Regions from separate parts of the Homo sapiens genome. Here regions 1, 2, 3, 4 and 5 are each linked to region 6. A link means that fine-mapping ties the variant in region 6 to the plasma level of a protein whose gene starts in the linked region. Region 6 holds a variant in brackets. A gene starts in each other region. All regions are shown on their reverse strands.

Region 1 (4,090 bases), not on the chromosome of region 6:
TATTTAGCTACTAGCCTGTTTTGCCGAATTTCAGTTAGAAAATTCAGCCAAGAGAATGCATTTGGCAGCTCGTATAGAGATTTCTCAAGAGGGCATCTAAATGAGATGTTGCAATTCTTGCTACATGTAGTTTATCATTAAACAAACGTGGTAAATATTATTGCAAAAGCAGAGATAAAGTTTAATTTTTTAAAAAATGAAAGAATGAGCTGGTCTTAAACTCTGTATCAAAATTCGTAGAAAATAATCTGAGTGTGTCTTTTTGAATGAACTAATCAGAAGATGACGAAATACAGTTGAATAAAAGGGATACAGAAGTATAAATACAGTGTATTATCTTAAAGAAAAATGAAAACTGTATCAATATGCTAATGTGTTACCTACCTCTTTTGAGTTCCGGGGTTCTGAGTAGTTTTTAAACTTTTTCACACTCATTTGGAGTATCATTTCCAAATAATTTGCCATAGAACTAAAATACATTTTTAAATTAACTTGCACAGTAAACTAGGAATTCAGCCAAAGGGAACTGAAAATTTAGATTTATAGTAATCAGGAAGTTGATCCTTGAACAAGATAGAGTTGGCTCTTGGACAGGAAAGCTATCTCCTTGACCATATGGATTTCCACTGGCCTTACAGAAATACTTGTGCTTTGATCTGGCATAGGTATCTTTTTCCAACTAGCTGGACTCTATTTTCTGAACCTAACACCCAAGGATTTTCAGTATAGATAGAAAATCTGACTAAACATGTAACTACCTAAATTGGTTTACTGAAATTTTGATAGACTCTGCCCATGTAGATAATCCTTGGCTACTGAGTTGATAATGAAGTTTTAAATCACTTATCTGCGGGACCCTGGACACAGGGCTGTCTTTAAACTCTTCCACTGAGTTCCAATGGCCTCATTAGTTTCATTGACCTTCACAGATATTATAAATTTGGAAAGCCAGTGGGAGAACGTGGCAATAACTAGAATAAGAGTAATAGGTGACATTAATCCATGTTACTATGTGATGGATGTTACCATGAGCCCTGCACCCAGATTACCTTAATTAACCTCATAGCAATGTTGTGTCAAATGTACTGAGTTATCACCACATTGCATATGAGGAAAATGAAACTTAGAGGGGTAAAATAAATTTCCCAAGGTTACACAGCTATGAAAGCTGAGTAGGGATTTGATTTTAGAGCATGTGTAACAACCTGTACCTGACCATTTCCTGAAAATAGGGCTACTGCAAAAACCAGGAGTGGAACTCATCTAATTCCAATGAATGATCTACCTATGACTCTCTAGACAAGTCACAGAATTTACCCAGTGCTCAGTTCACTCTTCTGTAAAATGAAGATGTTGGATTTCATGTCCTACAGGGCCTCTCTGAGCTCTCAAATTACATGCCCATAAAATATACTAGTTGTAAACTATTAGTAGAAGGAGCTTTAAAATCACTGTAGGGAGTCCAAGATTTGCCACTAACTTTTTATGATTGGCAGTGGTGAGCCATTTAACCTCTCCAGTTATTTGCCTCACTTCAAAGGTTATTTTTCATATATATGTCAGTGCTTCACAAAGTGCAATACAGCATAGAAATACAAAGTACTATGCCATCATCTAAAATAAGATTACTTCATAGCATCAGAATTATGGATTTAAAATATTATGTTGAATTGGCTTCTCACTCTTTTTCCCCTTTTACTTAGAACATCTGGTCTGCAATATTTTAAGGTAATGCTTATTTGTAGTAGATTTAAACAAAGAGAGGAAGAGAGGTAAAGACAGAGTTTCCGATTTTCCACTTACATATGAGAAAGGTGGGGTGTCCAAAGAAGACACACAGCCCTATACAGGGGGAGAAGGTGTGCGTTACTAACATATTAAGTAAACTTTAGTGAGGAACAGCAGTGGAAAATAATCTATATACCTTGGCTCTTTTGCAGTTTGACAAAGTTAATGATTAAAATCTCCTAGATTTTCCACTACAGTATCCCCAGGGTGTCTATTTACCTTGATTGATATTATTTTATCTCTTTTGGGCCAAAGATAACAGCCCCTTGCTTCTGTGTTTAATAATAATTCTGTGTTGCTTCTGAGATTAATAATTGATTAATTCATAGTCAGGAATCTTTGTAAAAAGGAAACCAATTACTTTTGGCTACCACTTTTACATGGTCACCTACAGGAGAGAGGAGGTGCTGCAAGACTCTCTGGTAGAAAAATGAAGAGGGTCCTGGTACTACTGCTTGCTGTGGCATTTGGACATGCTTTAGAGAGAGGTAAGATTTCTTTTGTTGTGACCATTTACAGGAATTCTTACTAGTTTAATTTTATATTATCACTTAAAAAATGAAATAAAAAGTAAGAAACAGAAGAACTGGTGAATATGTTGGGGAGAGGGATAAGGACCAGAGAGGCATTAATCAGAGCTCCACGATGCCATGTAATGTTGAATTGGAATTGACAAAAAAAATCAACACAAGAATCTTGTTAAAGAAAGTAAATGGAATGATATAATTTGTCAATTATCTCTTCCTCCTTTGTTGATAAGCAAGACCTAGAGAGAATAATTTAAAATTAGACATTTGCTAATTGTTACAAGATAATGCAAATAAAGACTGTGATCCACCATTAAGCATTTATTCAGACTTCAAATATTTATTACCATTGAGTGTAATATACCATGCCAATGATGCATGATGTCAACTTAGAGATTTCTTTGATCCCCTTAGAGGAATCTTATACATGCAGTATTTGAAAATGCATTGTATTTTTAAAAATATCCCTCACATAAAATTTTTCTATAGCTATGAAACATAACCACAAATAAGATAATTCAGTTATATTTTTCATTGAAATTATTCTTCAGATGGTGTGTTCATCTTTGGGCAATGTTTAAAAATTTTTTTACATGATAAAGACTGAGATTATGGGAAGTATACAACTTTATGAATTCTACAGCTGGGAAACTTTTCATCATTAGCTTCAATTTACTTTTCTGGCTGATTCTTTAATGTTCACAAGGGACATCTGCATTTATCCTGCTTTGTAAAATTAAGGTTTTCATTTAGTGCTGTCAGTTAACAGCCTCACCTAATTCGTACATTATTATTCATAATAGTAATGTGTTTTGCCAGTGGAATAAAATGTGTGTTCCCAAGAATTATCAGTTATTAACTGTAACATGAATAACCTTACTCTTGACTTTTTATTCTTCTTCTTACATTTACTTTTCCTTGGTCTTATTTCATCATTCAAATTATTTTAACTCGTCTTACCCATCAATTCTTAAGTAAGCTATGCGTCCTTAGGTAAGACTACAAAGTCTTTCCCAGACAGCATAGGGTATAAAAAAGCAACATAAATTGTGTCCCTTATAAGACCTCTGAATAGGCCATGTTCCAAGAAATCCCTTTAAGTCTTATTCTTTTGGCCAAGGATTTGCTGGGGCAGATCTGATCCTGAAAAATCCTACTGAAGCAGGTTCAGATCAGGGTCTTCAAACACAGAAGGTCCAATAATGGCTAGGAATTGGAATTATATATGGAGGCCATAAGCAGGAGCATGAATCACCATCTTAGACTGCTGACTCAATAGGTGCACATTGGCTTCACCTCAAAGAATGAAAGTGTCCTTTGGAGAATAACAGAGCATTCTGCAATCTATATTTCAACATTCTCAGCAGTCCTCAGATTCTGATGAAATGGATGCTAAAAACCTCCAGTCAGTCCCCTAGAAGATCTAAACTTCATTCTTATAACCCATGTGCCATATGCCAGATGATATCTTGAGACATACATAATACACTTGTAAGCATTAACTTTCAATATTTGGGGAGAGTAGTCCTGATCTATCAATTCTCTATTCTCTAATACCTGAGCATGACCCAAAGACCAAGTCAGCAGTTTACTTAGAAGCTAGCTGTGTTCTTCCTGGCAGGAAGTTACAAAGTGTACAGATTAAGGGAGTTCTGAGAACTCTTAGGTTCTGAGTAGCCTTGTATTGTGGGGGATTGGTTTGAATTGCAGTTTTCTCTGCCTGTTATAGTTCTAGAGAGCTGACCACCCACAGCATTTATTTAAGCACCTGTTTC
Region 2 (4,090 bases), not on the chromosome of region 6:
TCTTCCCGAGAGAAGCCCCGTCCTGATGCTTCCTGGTTGGGTGTCACAATGGCCAATGGAATGTGGCTCTGGGGCTGGAGCAAGGGTGGCCCTCTATCCCGAGTCCCACTCATCGGCTGCTCCAGGCTAAGCTGGTCAGCACTCTGAGGCTGGAGGTCCCGAGACCCTGCTATGGGCCAGAGCTCCAACTCCCCACCAGTGAATCTGCCCTGAAGACATGAGATGGGTGTGGTGGCTCACATCTGTAATCCCAGCACTCTGGGAGGCCAAGGCGGGCGGATCACCTGAAATCAGGAGTTCGAGACCAGCCTGGCCAACATAGTGAAACCCTGTCTCTACTAAAAATACAAAAAAAAAAAAAGCTGGGTGTAGTGGTGCACACCTGTGATCCCAGCTACTCAGGTGGCTGAGGCAGGAGAATTGCTTGAACCCGGGAGGCAGAGGTTGCGGCCACTGCACTCCAGCCTGGGCAACAGAGCAAGACTCCATCTCAAAAAGAAAAAAAGGAAGAAAGGAAGAAAGAGAGAAAGAGAGAAAGAAAGAGGCAGAAGGCATTCAAATGAAGATCATATTTCCTTAATCACAATGTTTCATATGACCCAGCTCAAGGGGCCCAGAACCACTTCTCCATCCACCGCTCAGCCGGTGAGGGGTAGCAGAGCTGCCCAGGGTCACAGTGTGTGGTGAGGCAGTGAGGTCGGGGACCAGGAGCCCAACAAGGGCCATTCGCTGATGCCTCAGAGATGAACAAGTGGGCTGTTCCTGAGATACCTGCACTAGGCAGGGGGAGAGCGGTGCTCAGAGTGAGAAGGAAACACTCTTACCTGGATGGTCCTGCGATCTGGAGTAGACGCCACGCACCTGCGCACAAAAGACCACAGTGTGAGACACACTCAGGGAAAGCCTCCGGAGAAACCAAGCCTGTCGCCATCCTGGCCACTTGGGGACATTACCTGAAAGTTGTAATAAAATAGCAGCAGCCAGGAGTACCAGCAGCACAGCCGCAGCAGCTTTTCCATGGCTCTCTCGGAGGTCAAAGCTCGGAGCCAAGTGAAATTCCTGAGGGTCTGTGAGAACGGGACCTCTTAACCTTCACTTCCTTGGAAAAGGGACATTTTCACAGGTTCCAGGGGAGAAAATTTCTGTCTCCTTAAAGTTTGTGAAACACAGCTGTCTTGGAGACCTAATGGGTGTTTCTTCCTCGTCTCAAAACTTGAGATTCTTCAGTGATCAATAAACACGTTGCGATGACCAGAGCAGCTGTGGAATGCAGGGAGGAGAAACCCAAACCCGACTCGCAGTCCTGGGAAAGCAATCCCAGGTCACCACTGTGACCGCGACCTGCGCCCGGGGACGGGAGGCTGTTTGTCCTGCGGTATTTTCTTTTTATTTCAAGAGCCTCCGTTTGTCTCAGTCAGGTTTGGAGCTTCCCTTTTCTCTGAAGAAGGTTTTGTGCGTGGTTTTCCCCTGGAGCGCCCGCCTGCTCCTCGGGCTTGTCCTGCGGCCGCTCTCGAGCTCCTTCTGGTCTGGCTCAAGTTCACACCTCCGTCCTGCTCTCTGGGTGGAGGGGGAGTGAGTGATGTAAGTCTCTCTCCTCAAACTTTGTTCTGTTCTCCTTTTCTATTTATATCCCCACTGCTGTGTCCTTCCTGGGTCCTAACTCCAGCCTCTTAACAACAGCTGAAATATTTCCAGGATCTCAGGCTCAGAATCAAACCAAACAGACATGGTGTGTGGTGTGTGTGCGTGTGCGTGTGTGTGTTACTGATGCCTTCTGGTCAGCACCTTCAAAGTCGGCATAAATATTAATAAATACAAAATGCAAAACAAACCATAAACTCTGTTTAGATCTGAGTCTTGTTTGCCCCCAAAAGAGAATGAAGTTGACAGAGGGATGGAAAAGAGAAAGCAGCACACCCACTGTGCCCTCCATATTAAGCGCTGACCACATTTTTCTCTCTAATCCTTTCGGACGTCAGTGAAAGCTACGGAATTAATTACAAGGTACGCTGCGCAATTACACCATCCCACATATACCCCCACCCCAGCACCAGGAGGATGTTCTCAATGGGATAGAAAAGAGTCAGCCCCTTCGCCAGACATGCCTCAGTTTACCCAAGACCAAAGTTTATCCGATCTACTCCAAATACACGTGGACACACAGAGACACACACCCTAGAATTGCAGTCACAGCTATATTTGCTATGTGATTTAAGTAATATTTACCGCTTCATACTTTCTCCAACATTCACCAGCTGTGCTCCTAGGCAAATTACTTGATCTCTCTTAGTTTTCGAATTCCTCATCCACAAAATGGGGGTTAATAGTTCCTCCTCCTCAGGGCTGTAACAATAAATTAGAGGACAGATCCAAGGCTCTTCAGGCAGTACTTGGAAAATATGTGGCACTCAGTAAATGCTGCTATTTTCTATTAAGAAAAATTATCACTCAGTAAATGTTAGCTATGATTATTATTAGCAAGTATAACATAACACCCAGTAAATGTTAGCTGATACAGTTATCTCAATTGTCCTGACTTTAAATGGGAATTAAGAATCCTGAATCCAACATACTTCCTAAAGAGGATAAGAAAATGACTTCCAATCTCTGTGGGACAGAAAAAAAGAAAGTGCTGTCAAAACGTTAGGTGATTATTTTTAACTTGTGCCTGCAGCCTACAACCGCTCAGATCCTCTGATAGCCTGAGCCTCTCTGTGGAGCTGGAGAAGGGTTCCAGAGAGTTCCATCTCCTAGCAATGGAGAAACTGTGAACTCCAAAGGCCGGGGGCTGTCTGTAATAACGACCTTTATCCTGTTGCTCAGGCTGGTCGGCTTCAGGGAAAACTAATTTACAACCTTTATCTCTGCCATTTCATCAGCTCTCCAGTCCCCCACTGCCTCTCGCTGGAAGAGGTGAAGGGAGGGACAGGCAGCTGCAGGTTTTTCTCAGCTCCAGTTTTAACCTGGAAGAATTCAACAGATTGCTGAATATGCGGACCTTTCCCATCTCCATGACCGAACAAAGCCAGCATGGTTTCTTTTCATCATAAAATTGTCATCAGATAATGGGAGACACCCCGATTCAATGACTGTAATAAAAACTAGATAGCAAAGCAATTCAGCAGAGCTTGCCCTGCAGGCATCTGCACTCATCCTCAGACTCACTCTGACTCTCCATCCCGGACTACAGTCTCGTGCCTCATGCTATTTGCCTGCGTCCTGTCTCAGGCCTTGTTCAGAGGCCCAGATGAAGAGCCCGCCTCCATGTAAAGCAGCGTGTCCTGAAGCCTGGAGATTTGAGACAGGGCCTTGAGTGGTCCATGGGCCTGGAACCAAGCAACTCTGATGTCTCTGAGCATCTCATTCCATCACCCAAACGTCGGGGTGTTCGGCACCCAAACATCACCTTGACAGCAGGTCTCCCTCCCCCTAAAGCCCTCCCCTGCTGTATTTTCTCGATCCCACTAACCACGATCCAATGTACTTCATATCTTAGACGTTTATTTCATTTATTGTCAGTCTCTCCCCACCGAGGCGTAGGCCCCATGAGAGCAGAGACCTTCTTTCTGCCTGTTCGCTCTGCACCCCAGCCCCGAGAACAGGGCTTGGTACTTGGTGAGCACTCAGCGTTTGTCACCAAACCCAGCCTGGCTCTGCCCTCCCGCAGCAAAGCCAAACATGGACGTCGGGATTGCAGTGAGAGGAAGTGAGGCATTTAGAGCAGGGCACCAGGCGAGCAGAACCTGGCAGCTCACACTTCAGACCTGAACTCCCCGATGGCTGATGGGGGAGGGTTTTTCAAGGTGGAGAGGCAGAGGTTACAGGCTAAGTCCCACATGAATAATACCTGGAGGCTGCACATTGGTTTGACCTAAAAAGCTAGGACATCTTGAACTGGGGGCCCACAGGTCATATAGGTAGTAGATTCAGAGGTTTTCTGATTTGTGATTGGTTAAGAAGGCAAGGCTTTGTCAAAAAATTTGAGATCAGCAAAAAAGAATGTTAGCTCTGGCCTGTGGGCATGACCTCCTCCAGGCCCCTCAGGAAGAAATTTAGAACAAAGAACAGTGGTGGGCCCGGAGGGGTGGAT
Region 3 (4,090 bases), not on the chromosome of region 6:
GGGAAGTAGTAGTGTGGGCACACACATACACACACAATGTACACACGAACACGTACACATTGGTCCTGCTGGCTCAGGAATCTATAGTTGGGTTTCCTTGCAGGAAGTATTTCAGGTGGCCCCATCTATCCCACGTGCCCATAAGTGTTTGTGCAGACTTTGTGTCTGTGCTTGGAAGGCTACAGTGTTAGAGGTAGCCCAGTTCCCTGCTACCCTGAGGGTAAAGTCCATATTACACAAACAGGGGGCAAAGGGCCTGGGCAGGAAGGGAGCACAAACAACACCTCTGGGGAGGAGCTAGGCAGCTTGGGGAGCAGGGCAGGGGAAGGGAATCATAAAAATCCCTGCTGTACCCAGGAACCGGGAGCATAGGGAGGGGCAGTGTCACAGGCCCTCCTTTGGTAGAGAGCACTAGGGGTGGGATAGAGCCAGAATCTCCAGCCCCTCCTCAACCAGAGGCCTCCCCTCCAACATCCCCCACCCCCATCACAGCCAGGACAAAGGGGCTATAGAAGGACTGAGACAGGGCCGGATGCCCAGAGGCTGCAGGACCCAGATAAAGGGTAAAGAGACCCAACCATGCCTGCCTCCTGCCTCCCCAGGGAGGGTGGCCAGACTCTGGTACTCCTGGGTTTCTGGGTGAAGATTGCAGGAGTCTGGATGGGACAGTTATACAGTCACTCCACTGCTCCCTCCCACGCCAGTCCCCAGACCACCCCCCTCCACCAGCTGGGAGTGTTCACATCTAAAAATCCCAGGATCTAAATTTAGGCCCAGCAACTGTGAGGGAAGCACAGGTGGTTTCTTCCACTCCCACACTGGGGAAGGGGCCCTGGCTGTGCCAAACCCCAAGCTGAGATCTGAGGGGAGGGGAGGAGATCCACAGAACTTCAGTCCTCAGGTGTCCACGGTCCCAGAGACACCCCAAAGGGGTGGGCTCAGATAGCATGGGAGTCGGGGGAGGACTGGAGAAGAGCAATCCGGGGCTCTGTCTAGGGTCCTAGAGACAGTGTCAGACAATAAGCAAAATGGGGGCGGGAGGCACAAGCTGAGCCCAGGAAGGACTCCCCAAGGCAGGAGGCTTAGAAAGTAGCAGAGGTGCCCTCTTGATCCTCAGGTTGGGGAGAGAAAAGACCAGAGGCTGGACATCCTTGCCCTTACAGCTCCTGGCCCAGGGCCTTGTGTATAGTAGATGCTCAATAAATATGAGTTGTGTTGACCTGGGTCTTGACAAAGAGATGTTGCTTAAGCTCTGCTATACTGAGGAAAGGGGGCGCCAGCCTCTGTTGGGCCTCCTGCCTGATGTCACCTGAACTTGGCCCTCTGGTTAATCTCAGACCTCCCCAGGGCAGGCTCACTCACGGAAGAGGAGGTGCCGCTCCTGTTTTTCCAACACCAGAGAACAACAACCCCCTCCAACCTTCTGTAGCTCCGCCCTGTCGGCAAAACAACGAAACTAGGGGTAGCTGAAATCGGCGCGGGTGGGGGGCAGGGGGTTGGCGAGCAAACCGAGACCCTTCCCGCCAAGGCCCCCACCTCCAAGCACCTCCTGTTTACAGAATGAAGTTCCCTGCTCCCCTCCCTGCAGGGCCCCTCAGAAGTGTGAACTACTGTTTCGGCCTCAGCCTCTTCTGGGGAGACCAATTAGAGGGTCGGCGACGCTCTGGAGAAGGGTGGCGTGAGGGTCCCGGAATGCCGCCCTCGGCCGGACCACGCCGATAACCCGAGCCTGACCGCCCCTCTCCCAGGTGGTCCTGGCAAACCGGGGGCAGCACCCACAACCCCGCGCCGCCTGAGACCGTGCCCATACCCTCCGAGGCTGCGCGCACTGGGTTCCGGCTCCCAGGTGCCGAGCCCGCCGGTGCTCTCGCGCCACTTACCTGCCTGAGAGTTGCCCACCTCGGAGCCCCGGGCCAGGCTGAAAAGCAAGCCCAGCACCTGCAGAGCGTCGTTCGCCCTCATGACTCCGCAGAGGGTGAAGGGAGCCCAGCCAAGTCCGGCCCGGGGGCCCCTAGGCTAGGACATCGAGGCAAGAGCCACCTGAACCGCTGGCGAATTGGTGGCTGCTGCGGCGACGGCAGCGGAGGTTGCAAATTGCAATCGGAGCCGGAGCCGGAGTCCGGGGAGGGATGGCAGGGGAGGGGTGTGTGTGTGTGAGAGAGAGAGAGAGAGGGAGGGAGGAACGCAGAGGGAAGGGGGTGAGTCACGGCCGCGCCCCCTCCCGCGCGAGGCTGGAGTAGGGATTGCGGAGCCTCGGACCGCCTGCCCCGAGCGTGCCACGCCCCGCGGTCCCGCAACTTGGCGGAGCAGATCGAGGATGGGGCTCACCCTAATTTTTCTGCAGGAGATAGGCCAAGGGGAGGTCGAGATTCCGAAAGCCCCCAGATCCAGGGAAGGGTAATGAATGAGGGAGTGGAAAGCTCTCCAAAGCCCTGCCCCCTGAAAGTTGGCCTCGCCCATTAACCAAATCACTCAACTCCCCTAGCCGGTTGGTTCACTTGGTGGATTTTCTCTCAGAATGTGAATATTTCTCTCTGTGTGTTTTTGAGGGGGAGGGTGTTTTTTGCCTCACGTCCAGGCCACCTCAGTTTCTCCCAGACTCGAAACCCCATAATTCATCCACCCAGCCCAGGAACCCGAGCCACAGAGACCGCGTGAAATTGCACTGTCTCTGGCCGCTTCCTCCTCCAGACCCGGCGCCGGCCGGGCCTCTCCCGGGGATTTGGATGGGGGGCGGGGGTGGTTTCCAGCCTGGGAACAGACCCCGGAGCCCGCCTTTCCACTTCTACCCCGGGAGGGGCTCCCGCACCTGTCGCCGTCCCCTCTGCTGCCCCCCACGGCCGCCTGGGAGAACAGCTGCCTCCCCTTCCACACTGGAGTCTGGCCGCACCGTCCGGGCGGCCGCAGTTCCCGCCGCTCTTCTGGGGACCCAGATGGGCACACACCAAGGCGCTTACACCCTCCCAGGTGCCTTCCAAGTCCAGGCTCTCGCAGGAAAGGGGATGGGGCAGTGAAGTGGGACGCGGAGAGGACACTAGAGACTGCGTCCACGAATGGCGTGGACCTCTGGAACCTCCCCCACCAGCTGCCCGGACCTGGCCAGAGGCGGTCGGGCTCCCTGCGGGTTGCTGCCCAAAGCCCTGCTAGTCCCGGGACGGATCCGACCGGCGCCGCCTGGTGCCCATCCGTGGCAGTGGAGTCCCAGACGGCCTTGCATTTCAAATCCCTTAAACTGGTATTCGGGATCTCGCCCGGAGAGCCTAGTTGTTTTCTCCAGAACTTCAAGCCTGAAGACTTCGAAAACAGTTGAGCCTTGATAAAGAAAAATTTCACCCCTCACACCTAGCAAAGACTACCGGCTAACATTCCTTAAACATGCTCCCTATTGATATGCAACCTAGAGGGCCTGTTCTCTACTGGAGAATCTCCGCTTTGGGGAGGTTGGCTTTCTCCAGACCATGTGTATAGTAGTCATAATAATAATAGCAACAACAAAACCATTAACATATACAAACATTTCCATATATCATTTCATTTACAAAGTATGTCCTCAAACTTAGTGCCTTAGAGAATGTGTCACTTAACATAAAAATTATATGATTTAGGCAATATAACTCCCCATTTTACAGAACTAGAAGTGTGTGACCTCTCCAAGGTCATCCACCTGGTGACAGTGGTTGAGGTGATCAGGTGATTGGGAGGTGGGGCTCAGACTTTTACCTAGGGTTTCTTTCTCTCTTTTTTTTTCTTTTCTTTTTTTTTTTTTTTGAGACAGAGTTTCGCTCTTGTTGCCCAAGCTGGAATGATCCACCTGCTTCAGCCTGCCAAAGTGCTGGGATATCTTCCATCTTAAAAAACAAAACATTCGGCTGGGCGCGGTGGCTCATGCCTGTAATCCCAGCACTTTGGGAGGCCGAGGCGGGCAGATCACTTGAGGTCAGGAGTTCGAGACCAGCCTAGTCAACATAGTGAAACACCGTCTCTACTAAAAATACAAAAATTAGCTGGGCATGATGGTGGGCACCTGTAATCCCAGCTACTTAGGAGACTGAGGCAGGAGAATCGCTTGAACCCGGGAGGTGGAGGTTGC
Region 4 (4,090 bases), not on the chromosome of region 6:
TTAAAAGATTTTCAGTTGATAAAGTAGAAAGCTTATCATAAATTAATTTATTATTGAAGAAAAGTTTTAAAAATAAATTTAGTCTATCCTGGGTGCACCAGAAGCTCAGTAATTAGCACTAAAGAACTTATCCATGTAACCAAAAACCACCTGCTCCCCCCAAAATATTGAAATAAATATATAAATAAAATAAATTTACCTAGCTCAAGTATTCAGTGTTCATGAAGTTTACAGTAGTGTATGGTAATGTGCTAAGCCTTCATATTTGCACACCACTCACTCAGTGACTTACCCAGAACAACTTTCAGTCCTGCAAACCCTATTGACGGTAAGAGCCCTATACAAGTCTGCCATTCTTAATATTTTATATTGTATTTTTATTGTACCTTTTATATGTTTAGGTAAACACATTCTTACATTTGTGCTACAGTTGCCCACAGTATTCAGTACAGTAACATGCTGTACAGGTTTGCAGTCTAGGAGTGACAGGCCGTATAGCTTAGTTAGGTAGTAGGCTATACAATCTAGGTTTGTGTAAGTACACTCTATGATGTTTGCAGGAGGACGAAATTGCCTATAGACACACTTCTCAGAACGTTTTCCTATCATTAAGTGATGTATGAGTGTACACACACACACACACACACACACACACACAGACAATTACCTATATATAAAACCTTGCAATTTATTTGCCTATTTACATTTTGCTTTTCTTTTAGGACACTCTAAGTAGTAGTGAGGGGTGGGTGGCGTTGTCATATTCTTTCCAGCTTCTTTGCTACAGCATGAAGCACAATATATTGCTTGATTCATGTTTTGCTACTGGAAGCATGCAGTTTTCTATTTGTACAAAAGTGTTGCTTTCGTCTGTTATTTCTGCTGTTTGGCCAGTTTCTAAATAGACACCAAAACAAAAGTGTAATGCACACTTACAGGTCATTTAACACCTAGACAACTTTTAATAGAATTTCACTAAAGTTTATCCTGGGACTGGACTGAAGCTTGAAAGTTTTGTGGGGTTAGGAATTGTCAAAATTCTACATATTATCCTCATAATTTTCACTTATCTTCCTCTGCTTCCACCCCCCTTTAGAAATCCTTGTGTAATGCCATTTGTAACAGATGTTTAAGCCACTTAATAAATATCATAAACACAGACTTAAGAAAAATCAAATACACTCATGCAATCGCACTCTTGTGATTATAGCTCAGTACTAAAAGTGAAAACAAAATAAAATGAATTTTAGGCCCATAGAAATAATGTTTTGCAACATTTGTAAGGGCATATCTTAAAAAGAAAGCATTTTATGGTTCATATTTTTCTCTTATGTCAGGACTGAGAAGAAAGTGTTCAAAAAATTTAAAGATCTGTAAACATTAGAAAGCAGTAAAGCAGTAAAATAAAAACTTTCTGGAAATCAAAGAGTATATAGCACAATGATTGAAACTTCACGTACACACATAGTTTAATCAGTATCCTAGACCTTGTTAGAGATTTTGTTTGCAATCCTTTTGATATAGTGGCTTTAATTTCCACATGAAATAAAATGGGATAGTTTATAATGTTATAAGAATCAGTTTATAGTATTAATAAAGAAGTGATATATTATTTCACTTTTGAAATTTGTGGAAGAGCTCAGAAGAAACAATTTTTTGGCAGTTCACTGGTTTATATATAAAAATAATATTTTCTATTGTTTCATTAAAATATATTTCCCTGTTGAATGATAATTAGGCTGAAATGAGAATTCCTTCATTTTAATAACATTTAAAATGTAAATTATCAAATCTATGAAAATAAAATTCTCAAAACATAATGAAGGTGGCCAAATCTTTTGGGGTTGATTTTTCTAGTCAGTGGCATTGCAGAGTTTATGCAGAATTACACTAATATTTCACCTTGTCATCTTTATTATAGCAGATTTTCTCTCCTTTGATTTCTCTTTACATTATCTATTTGGTGACCATTTACCCTTAGCAAACTAGAGAACGGAGAGAATTAATTTCATTCAATTTTCCTGCTAATTGCATGTTGGAAAATATTTCCAGAAAATAGATGAATATTGTGATACCCCTTCAAATTATCCTCAGCTATTTATTCATTTAAAAATATTTGTATGCATACACACACACAATCAATAAATACATTTGAAAAGGAACTAAAATATTCGGATCTGTTTTCAACTTACCTTCTCCCCCAACAGTGGATACCCATGAGATTAGGATTACACTGAATAAGAGCAACATGCTTGGTAGTCTCAATCGTATATAACTAAAAATACTCCAGTGATGGTGGTGTTGCTTTAAATCTGCTTTCATTAACAGTTACAAGCATGACTTTGAATTTCAATGTACTAAGGGGAAGCTAGTTTAGTAAAGCCCTTTGTGGAAAACATCAAAGTTCATGGAGGGTTGTGTGAAATAAGCAAATAGTATCTAATCAGTGTCTTCACAATAATATTCTCAGCTCGTTATGTAATATTTATTTAAGCAAAATAACTGCTGTTCAATTTCCTTGTTGTAGTCACCGAGTCTCTGAGTTTGGAACAATCAGAAATGGACTGTTTAGAGGAGAGAGGAAGCTCCCCACCGCCGGCCCCCTGGGTTTTTTTTTTTTTTCTAGCCAAGGGTTCAGCTGTTTCAAAAGGCAAGCAAGTGCAAGTCATCAGTCCTCATCTTAATACAACAATATCACTTTTGTAGTTGTAAATTCCCTTTTAAAACTGGCACTAAGAATTAGGTACCTTCTTAACAGTTTTAATATTTCATAAACTATAAAAGGTCTAATCAAGAATTATTTTTGCTGGCCGGGCGCAATGGCTCAAGCCTGTAATCCCAGCACTTTGGGAGGCCGAGGCGGGTGGATCACAAGGTCAGGAGATCGAGACCATCCTGGCTAACACGGTGAAACCCGTCTCTACTGAAAAATACAAAAAAAATTTAGCCAGGCGTGGTGGCGGGCGCCTGTAGTCCCAGCTACTCGGGAGGCTGAGGCAGGAGAATGGCGTAAAACCGGGAGGCAGAGCTTGCCGTGAGTGGAGATCGCGCCACTGCACTCCAGCCTGGGCGACAGAGCGAGACTCTGTCTCAAAAAAAAAAAAAAAAAAAAAAAGAATAATTTTTGCCAAGTAACGTTTCCTGAAATGTTTGAAGAACAGAATTATAATTCAAAATCATTTTGTTCAGGTGGGACTTCGAGAATGGCTATGTGAGGGTCTTGGTATATTCACTCCCAACCAAAAGGCAGCAATAAAACTGGATAAAAATTTAAAAGTAACCATTGGTTGTCTCTGGAAATTGGCCAAACAGCATAATGTTGGGAAATATTTTTTCCAGAAAGTCTCCATAAAATTCAGTAAAAGAGAGCGGATGCTTTCATCCACCTCTGTCTCGCAGCCCAATTCCGTGGCTCAGAAGTTGAACCCTGGATGGGCAGGCAGGCTATGTGGACTGGAAGCTCTGCTCCCCTGCTGGAGAAGAGTGACTTTATAGCTTGGAAAGGTCCATGCCCGAGGATCCTATTGAATACAAAGAGATTACAGTGGGAAACAATCAGAGAAGACTAGAGGATACTAGCTGAAGCAAGCAACAAAGTGCCCAGCCTGAGAGAAATTTAACATTTAATGGGGAAATTTACAGAAACAGCCTAATGATCTCACTAAGAGGAAACTTACTTATGGTGGTTCAGAAGTCAATGGGAATGCACATAGCTATGTCCAATCAAGAAACCAGAGAAGTCCCTGTGAGCTATTAGTAGTCTCCACTATTGATTCTAGTCTATCTAAACCTTGTCATTTCCAATTACTACACTACCTAAAGTATCTAAATATTAAGCATCACACTCTAGACCATTTCAACAATCTTTTTAGCTCACTTACTCTACTAAATTTGTTCCAAACATTCAATGACCCTGACACTTTTTCACTATTCTCTTCCCTTCATTTTCTCTCTTCCCACCACATCTAAATTAGATTCCATGGCTCATCACTGTCAGTCAGTCCCTTGCACACACTCTCCTGCCCATTCGTTCCTTTCTATCTGTAATCCAAGTCTTAGAAAACCTCAATCCTTTGCAAATAAATTCTCT
Region 5 (4,090 bases), not on the chromosome of region 6:
CCAAGGGAGGCGGCTGGGAGGTGGAGGTTGTAGCGAGCTGAGATCACGCCACTGCACTCCAGTCTGGGCGCCATTGAGCACTGAGTGAACCAGACTCCGTCTGCAATCCCGGCACCTCAGGAGGCCGAGGCTGGTGGATCACTCGCGGTTAGGAGCTGGAGACCAGCCCGGCCAACACAGCGAATCCCCGTCTCCACCAAAAAAATACGAAAACCAGTCAGGCGTGGCGGCGCGCCTGCAATTGCAGGCACTCAGCAGGCTGAGGCAGGAGAATCAGGCAGGGAGGTTGCAGTGAGCTGAGATGGCAGCAGTACAGTCTAGCTTCTGCTCGGCATCAGAGGGAGACTGTGGAAAGAGAGGGAGAGGGAGACCGTGAGAGGGAGAGGGAGAGGGAGACGGAGAGGGAGAGGGAGAGGGAGAGGGAGAGGGAGGAGAGGCGAAACTTTCAAGAAAGAAAATCTGATTGGCTGAGCTTGCCTCTACCTGAGCTACAGATTCCTCAAAAGTTTAATCAAGGTCCATGGTGGTACCAAGAAAAAAGGACTTTCCTCTACAATCTGAGTGAGATGATAGCTTTGATTGTGGTTGAGGGGCAGGGCATGAGGTAATAGGAGATAAGTTATTAACATGATATGAAATCCAGAACATGAGTGAGAAGGCAGCATGGAGGAGGATTTATGCATTTTTGCTCTAAAGGCAGACTGCATGACATTAGAATCACAGCTCCACATACTGAACTCGATCTTCCTAGACATGTGAAATGGGCATACAAAGAGGACCTTCTTTATAAGCTAGTTGTGAGAATTAAATCGATAATTTATGTTCCAGTCACCACCAAATAATTATTCAATATGTATTAAAAACACTCAAGATGAAAGGTTACCTTTTACAGAGAGGTCTAAGGAAAGCAAGAAAAATTGAAGGCACAAAGAATCTGAGATGCAGAAGCAAGAAACTCCTACATTTTCTGACCAAATGTCTTCAGCCTTCCTGGCAAAGTAGATTCTGCCCATTTATTAGATCTCTAGTGATCTTAGTCTGATATGACCATAATTCCAATACAGAGACAGTACGGATGAACCTCAATGATAGGGACATACAGCAGAGACTCTGGTTGACATCTGTAAATATTTACATATTTTGTAGAATAATAATAATAGAAATACAGAAAACAGCGATAATGATAGCCAACAATTATTGGAGGTTTGCTACATGCTGGGTCCTGCCTTAAGTACTTTTTATGTATTAAGCCATTTAGTACTTACATCAAGCCCAGAAACTTTTATTATCGACATTTTAGGAACAAAGGAACTGAGGCATAGTGAATTCAAATAACTGGGCTGAGTAGCCAAGTTAGCAAGTAGCTAAGGTAGGGCTCAAAGCCTGACACCTGCAATAGATAATGCATTACATTGTCTCACTAAGAGAGACCTCCAACGGTAGCCCTCAGACTTTTAAAAAAAATAAATACATTGACAGTGGGTGAAACAAATGAAATAACTTGAAGAAGAAACAAACTGCAAAAAAGCTTATTAACAGTGTAATAATAAATATGTAATTTTTTAAACCCTAACTCTAGGGGGAAAAAAGCATTCTTTTTCAACTGATTACAAAAACAATCCTGGAAAGTAAAGGAAATAGCTATTCAAAATGATCGTATCTGAAATCTTGGTGTAAGCTGTTTCCTTCATCTGTTTCCTCCACTAAAAAAAAGAAAGAAAGAAAGAAAAAAGAGGTTTAGACTAAATAGAGTCAGAGTTGCAGTGACCTAAACAGGAAGTTGGGCTATTCCCAACTGCCAGTGATCTCTGAAGCCGACTCTGAGGCTCCCTCTTTGCTCTAACAGACAGCAGCGACTTTAGGCTGGATAATAGTCAAATTCTTACCTCGCTCTTTCACTGCTAGTAAGATCAGATTGCGTTTCTTTCAGTTACTCTTCAATCGCCAGTTTCTTGATCTGCTTCTAAAAGAAGAAGTAGAGAAGATAAATCCTGTCTTCAATACCTGGAAGGAAAAACAAAATAACCTCAACTCCGTTTTGAAAAAAACATTCCAAGAACTTTCATCAGAGATTTTACTTGTGAGTACCTGGCAATATACTGTCTAGCCCATAAGAAATAACTTTAATTTCTTTTTCTCGGGGGAAAAGCAGGGTGCTGAGAGGCAAAGAACTGATAGGGGAGGATCACTGTTTATTTGCGTAAAATGAAAATCAGCCCTTCCCTGTAAACAGAGTAAACTCAAACTGCAATCCAAACTTGAGTTCTCAGCATTTTGCATTTAGTTCTTAAGCAAATTTATGTGCAATTTTTATGATTTTAAACCATAAACATTTTTGTAACTAATTGGTGTATGTAGCTTTTTTATAATTTGAAGATTGTAGTAGAATTCTTTACTAATTGTGCTTGGTTAATTGGAAGTTCTTGAAAGTTCGGTTTACCTTTCCATTTTATTTCATAACATATAAAATAGAGACTGTTATTCTTCTATTCAAATAATCTTTCAATACTATTAGTTGATGATATTTAAAATGAGGTATAACCATTAAAATAATCGTAATCTAAATGGAATATTTTATGCCAGCATTAACTAATCTCTCTAAGGAAATATTTTACAATTCTCCAAAGACCAAAGGTCATATTCTGAGATACTTAAACGAGAATACTTACGATCAAGTCTATGTTGTGCAATTTTGTAAATTAAAACAATAGATAACATGCCTACATGATGTACTGTTATGTTCCTGTTATAAAATGTTTGCTTCTAGTGAAAAATGAAAGCATATAATACAGCAGTAAACAACCACAGAAATATAATGAGAGAAACAATTATTTAATTATGAAAAAGCACTCATTAGTATAAAATAATTACCAAAAATAAGGGCCAAGAGTACTACCATGTGGGAAAAAAGAAAAGATAAGCAACAGCCACACTGTGACTCAGTGCTCTGGAAATTAGTCACAAAATGACTTTGTATAACATGAGATAATATAAACACAAAGGGCAAAACTCAAGCAGGAAACATACTGCCCAGAGAGTCATATTTCATGTGTAAAAGCATAATATTTACATGAAAGGGGGAAAGTTGTGACAATTTTGAGAGATACTGCAAAACTTTTGAATAAAATGTGTTAGGGAGGCAAAATCTCCCTAACACATTTTAAAGATTATTTTAAATCTATCATTCTAGTGCATGATTATTTCAATATACAGTGTCCATATCTCATCTAATCCTTAAACTAAAGAGGGATAGTCCCTGAAATTTGGCTGAGTTTGAAATGTTAATTTGTGGCCTACAGCTTAATAAAATTATATGAAATATAATTAGGGATCAACAAAGATTGAAAAATATTAATGTAAATACAGATAACTAATCAAGTAATTTTAAAATAAGAGTAAAACTTTAAAATATTTATTTTTACTGATTTGAGTAGTTATATTGGAAAACCAAGTTTTTCTACTTCAAGTGACCACAGAATCTTGTTGGAAAAGTTTAATGACATATACTACTATTTGATTCCTATCTCTATTAGGTATACTGAATTGGACAAGTTTTTGTTTTGTTTTGTTTCTTTGTTTTTAAGGTACAGTCTGATATCTTTTGTTTTACCACCAATGACTAAATCAAAACTCCTTTGGAAATGTGGTTCCTGTCCAAATGGATTATGTTATCAACTGGTGTTTGATGGTCTGACTGATTGTCCATTTATCAGTCAGATAATCATTTAAGGAAATGATTATCATTTGCTTGTTGATTGTACAACTATTTTGACTTAAATCTTCTGTCATAAAACTTATTGTTAAATTAATAATACATAAAATGATAACATATTTTGTAATAAACTCTAATTTTCAAAACAGCTTAATTATCTTAAAAATTAATTTTCTAATCTTTAGAAATCTTTTGTTTACATCTTTCAAATTCAAGAGGTAAGTGGGCAGGATGGCAAACTAATGGAGAAAAAATGCCAACTTTAGAGACTTAATTTAATGCCAGAGTGCCTATCCATCTAACCAAATAGTAAATATGCTATCAATTCCTTAGGAATGGTTGGCTGATTAAATTCAGTGTCACAAAATTTTAAGGTAT
Region 6 (4,090 bases):
AAGCAGTGGTTCGCCACTTTGCACATTAGAATCACCTGGGGAGCTTTTTCAAACTAGGGCTGAACCATCCGCAAAGATTGTATTAACTTGCTTTGGGTGGGGTTGAGTCATGGAAGGTTTTTAAAAGCTTCCTAGGAAATTCTAGTGCACAGCCAGAGTTGAGATCATAGGCTCCACGGTTGGGCAGGAATTTATCATTCTCAGCAGGGAGGAGGATGGTGGCCCCAGTGTTGGAAGCATCTGTGAACTCTATACCCCAAGAACTTCCTAGAAATCAAACAAGCTCAAGCCAAAAGGAACCTCCTGTATCACCTGGACCAGATATCCCCAATCCTGGTTATACACTGGCAACACCTGGGTAGCTTATAAAATGCCCCACCCCAGATATTCTGATTAAGTGGTTCTGGGATGGAGTGGGGGCATCAGCATCTCTTATATCCATCCTCTCAGGTTGATTTTTTTTTTTTTTTTCAGACAGGGTCTCACTGTGTTGCCCAAGCTAGAGTACAGTGGTGCATCATGGCTCACTGCAGGCTTGGCCTCCTGGGCTCAAGCCATCTTCCCACCTCAGCCTCCCAATTAGCTGGGGCTACAGGCGAGTACCACCATGCCTGGCTAATTTTTGTATTTTTTGCAGAGACAAGGTTTCGCCATGTTACCCAGGCTGATCTCAAACTCCTACACTCAAGTGATCCACCCACCTCAGCCTCCCAAAGTGCTGGGATTACAGGTGTGAGCCACCGCACCTGGCCCAGGTTGATTCTAACGTGTATCCAGTTTGGGAACTACTGATATAGTCCCAGACTCTCAGTTTACAGATGAAGAAAATGAGGCTCAGAGAGGAGCAGTGACTTGCCCAAAGTCACACATCATGCTTGCTCCAGAGGCAGGGCTAGAGCCCAAACTCCTGACCAGGGCTATTTCCATGCTGTAACCCCTATGGTTTGCAAAATTATTTCACATATATTACCTCGTTGGCCTATATCTTGCCAGACTGCATTGCTTCCTGCCACCATCCTCTCATTTCGCAGAAGATGAGATGGGGCTCAAAGAAGTGACCTGCCCAAAGCCACACAGTGGCAGGATCCAGAAAAGAACTCAGGTCTCCTGACTGCAGATCATGGGTATGGCCTCACCCAACAATGCCCATGGCCAGTCATCTGCCTGCCAAGTTCCAGCATGTGAGGTTTTCCTGAGCCTCAACACCAGCAGCTGAAGGTTTGGACACCTCCAGAGGCCAGGCTTCCTGAGCCTCAACACCAGCAGCTGAAGGTTTGGACACCTCCAGAGGCCAGGCTGTGCAGAAATCTCACAGCGGACAGTTGCCTGGTGCCCTGGAAGTTCTACTCACCGATAACCCCTTACCCACCGTTCTGAGCATACTGAGATTTCCTGTTTACAACAGGTTTGCATCTGTTATCTCCAATGGTGTGTTAATGACAATCCCCATTTTACCAAAGGGCAGACGGAAGCTCAGAGAGCTTTGAGGACATTGTCTCAGGACCAAAGCTAGCCTAGAACCAGAATCAGGTCTTTGGACTCTAAGGCCAGCCCCTGGGGCCTGGGGGGCCTGGGACCTGCCTGCTTTGTGAAAGTTTTCCCACCCTGCCTGAACAGATGGCCAGAAGAGCTTAAACCAGAGATTGGGGCAGGGTGGTGTGTATGTGTGTGCCCCAGTTTGACCAGCTCTGGTTTCTGGTTACCTGCTGCCAAAAAACAAATATTTCCCAAAGTGGTAGGTGCAGGAAACAGACCTCACTTCTTTAAAGCCCAAAGTAGGCAAGCCATTTCTACCTTCCTCCCTTTTTCTCACCTAACCATTTGAGGATAACAGTGATTAAATGCCTGCTTTCTGGCCAGGCACAGTGGCTCACGCCTGTAATCCCAAGTTTGGGAGGTCGAGGCAGAAGGATCATTTGAGGATAGGAGTTTGAGACCA[G/C]CCTGGGCAATACAGTGAGATCCCCATCTCTACAAAAATAAAAATAAAAAATAAGTCCGGGTGCCATGGCTCGTGCCTATAATCCTAGCACTTTGGGAGGCCGAGGTGGGCAGATCACTTGAGGTCAGGAGTTCAAGACCAGCCCAGCCAATACGATGCAACCCCGTCTCTACTAAAAATACAAAAAAAATTAGCTAGGTGTGGTGGCGCATGCCTGTAATCCCAGCTACTCAGGAGGCTGAGGCAGGAGAATCGCTTGAACCCGGGAGGCAGCAGTTGTAGTGAGCCAAAATCACACCACTGCACTCCAGCCTGGGCAACAGAGTGAGACTCTGTCTCAGAAATAAATAAATAATAAAAGCTACTTTCTCCTTGTCTACACCCCCTGATAGTCGCTAGACATAGGGAGCTGGGCCTTGAGGAAGGGCCCAGGATGACCTGTCATTTATTTTACTTACGAAGCACTGATACAACTCGCTGCTCCAAGTGCTCTGAAACATTCATTAACTCATTTCAATTTTCACAACAGCCCTATGGGAGAGGGGAGGGCACTGCTCCTCTCCCCACTCTAGAGATTAGGAAATAAAATACAGACAGGTTAAGTGACTTGCTCAATGTTACACAACTAGAAAGAGGCAAAGCCGGGATTTGAACCTAGGCAGTCTGGCTCCAGAATCCACGTTCTTGACCACTGTGGTTTACTGGGCAGCATTTGCCTGAGTGTCTGGTGCTACACCAGTCTCACCAGGGAGACTCCTAAACACACTGCAAAGTGACACCTCATGCTCGACTGGCTCTTAAATCCAGATGAAAGAGTGTAAAACACTAACCATTTTCTGGGGTTGTCACGGTGTGTGCAAGTCCACATGGACGCCCATTTCAGGACCTCGCCACCACCTTCCACCTTCCTTCTTGCATTCACTGCTGTGATTAGAGTCTGCACGCCACCTGCATCCACTCTGGCAGTTGGTATTGTAATCCCCCATTGTACAGGTGAAAACACTGGGGCTTGCGGAGGGCGTAAGTGACCACAAAGCTAATAAGTGGCAGAGCTTGGAAGTCAATCCCCTGCTTCTGCTCATTACATCATTTGCATCTTTCCAAGACCCCTCAGGAGGGATTCTGCAGGAATTGTGGCCGCTATTCTGGGAAACGGAAGGTGCGAGTCACGTGATCAGTGTGAGAGTCCAGGCCTCTTAACTTCTGAGCGGATTCTCTTCCGCCTCCTGCTTCCACCATTTGTCCATGTCCATTGCTACCATTCCAACACCTCGGTTCCTGGAATGGAGGGACACATTTGACTGCTGAAACCTGCTCAGTGTAGACTCTAGCATCTCCAAAAAGCCGGGTAAACTCTCAACCCAAAGGAGAGAAGCCAAGTCTTGCTCAGCAGCTATTTTAGGGCCTGAGAGCTCCCCCTGCCCCTCTCGGGATGTGGGGATGTCGGGATGTCGGGATGTCCGCAGAGCCAGTTTTACCCTCCCGTGGGTGCGTGGTGGGACCAGTCACCGAGGGAGGCAGCGCCCGGGTGCAGGTGGGCCGTGTTCTGATGGAGCTGGTGGATGGCAATGCCAGCCAGAGAACTCGGTAATGACGGGAGCCAGCATGGGCGAGCACTCACTAGATGCCAGGCGTCGCTGTATGTGCCTCAAGCCCCGCAACCACCTGGGCTGTGGGCTCTAAGGGGCCCTCAGAGCTTCGCTGCCCTCGGAAGTGATGGGATCTGAGGAACACCTATCACCTAGATTGACAGGGCACTGGGCCATGGCCTTAGGGTCTGCTGGGGTCCAACCATAGCCCTGAGATCCTGGGTCCTGCCCTCTGTACCCTTGCCCAATCTCCATTTTGCAATCCATCAGCCTGACCCAGTAAACATCTCTAGCCCGAAGAGAACCCATCTTCCTGACCCTTTTCTATGTGTTTCGAAAAAGAGCCCAGGGGTGTGGGGGAGGGAGGGGGCCTCAGGCATCTGATGGGAGGCTGGGAGAAAGCCACTGAGCTCTGGTAGGCTGCCTGAGTGCCAGCCACTTTACCCAAGCTTCCTTACCAGTACCAAAGGAAGGAAACAGAATCCCTGGAGGGGAAACTAGAAAGCGGTCTTGTCCATGGCTTATCTGTTGGGGGATAGAAGGGCGCAGGAGGGAAGGGAAA

Alleles and levels. Positions count from the first base shown, and alleles are read on the strand shown. Strength reflects both the effect of a copy and how common the allele is.
In carriers of allele G in region 6, the plasma level of the protein whose gene starts at base 2,158 in region 1 tends to be higher than with C alone (weak association).
For the plasma level of the protein whose gene starts at base 1,578 in region 2, G is the high allele of the variant in region 6 and C is the other (weak association).
For the plasma level of the protein whose gene starts at base 2,098 in region 3, C is the low allele of the variant in region 6 and G is the other (weak association).
As copies of G replace C in region 6, the plasma level of the protein whose gene starts at base 2,359 in region 4 goes up (weak association).
In carriers of allele G in region 6, the plasma level of the protein whose gene starts at base 1,845 in region 5 tends to be higher than with C alone (weak association).

What was found. PIP is the posterior inclusion probability: the model's chance that the variant is causal. The UK Biobank Pharma Proteomics Project read protein levels with antibody pairs (Olink). The fine-mapping took linkage between variants from a reference panel, not from the people measured, so its PIPs are less certain.
Region 1: GC starts here. The variant in region 6 is fine-mapped to the plasma level of the GC protein (UK Biobank, PIP above 0.99).
Region 2: it holds the start of ADGRD1, and the variant in region 6 is fine-mapped to the plasma level of the ADGRD1 protein (UK Biobank, PIP 0.97).
Region 3: it holds the start of ERBB3, and the variant in region 6 is fine-mapped to the plasma level of the ERBB3 protein (UK Biobank, PIP above 0.99).
Region 4: CFHR5 starts here. The variant in region 6 is fine-mapped to the plasma level of the CFHR5 protein (UK Biobank, PIP above 0.99).
Region 5: TFPI starts here. The variant in region 6 is fine-mapped to the plasma level of the TFPI protein (UK Biobank, PIP above 0.99).

What each region holds. Positions count from the first base shown.
Region 1 is chr4:71,782,147-71,786,236 of GRCh38, reverse strand. GC (GC vitamin D binding protein) reads left to right here and starts at 2,158. Exons shown (of 13, transcript NM_000583.4): 1 at 2,158-2,276. The coding sequence starts at 2,219.
Region 2 is chr12:130,951,395-130,955,484 of GRCh38, reverse strand. ADGRD1 (adhesion G protein-coupled receptor D1) reads right to left here and starts at 1,578. Exons shown (of 25, transcript NM_198827.5): 1 at 954-1,578; 2 at 825-861. The coding sequence starts at 1,019.
Region 3 is chr12:56,078,173-56,082,262 of GRCh38, reverse strand. ERBB3 (erb-b2 receptor tyrosine kinase 3) reads right to left here and starts at 2,098. Exons shown (of 28, transcript NM_001982.4): 1 at 1,881-2,098. The coding sequence starts at 1,962. RefSeq lists an enhancer at 1,451-2,441.
Region 4 is chr1:196,975,825-196,979,914 of GRCh38, reverse strand. CFHR5 (complement factor H related 5) reads right to left here and starts at 2,359. Exons shown (of 10, transcript NM_030787.4): 1 at 2,193-2,359. The coding sequence starts at 2,250.
Region 5 is chr2:187,552,190-187,556,279 of GRCh38, reverse strand. It overlaps TFPI (tissue factor pathway inhibitor), which reads left to right and starts at 1,845. Exons shown (of 8, transcript NM_006287.6): 1 at 1,845-2,080.
Region 6 is chr8:125,485,639-125,489,728 of GRCh38, reverse strand. All of the region lies in intron 2 of TRIB1AL (TRIB1 associated lncRNA), which reads right to left. Among named protein-coding and RNA genes, the nearest start is that of TRIB1AL, 21 kb to the right of the region's middle. The variant G/C (reference allele first, on the strand shown) is at 1,940.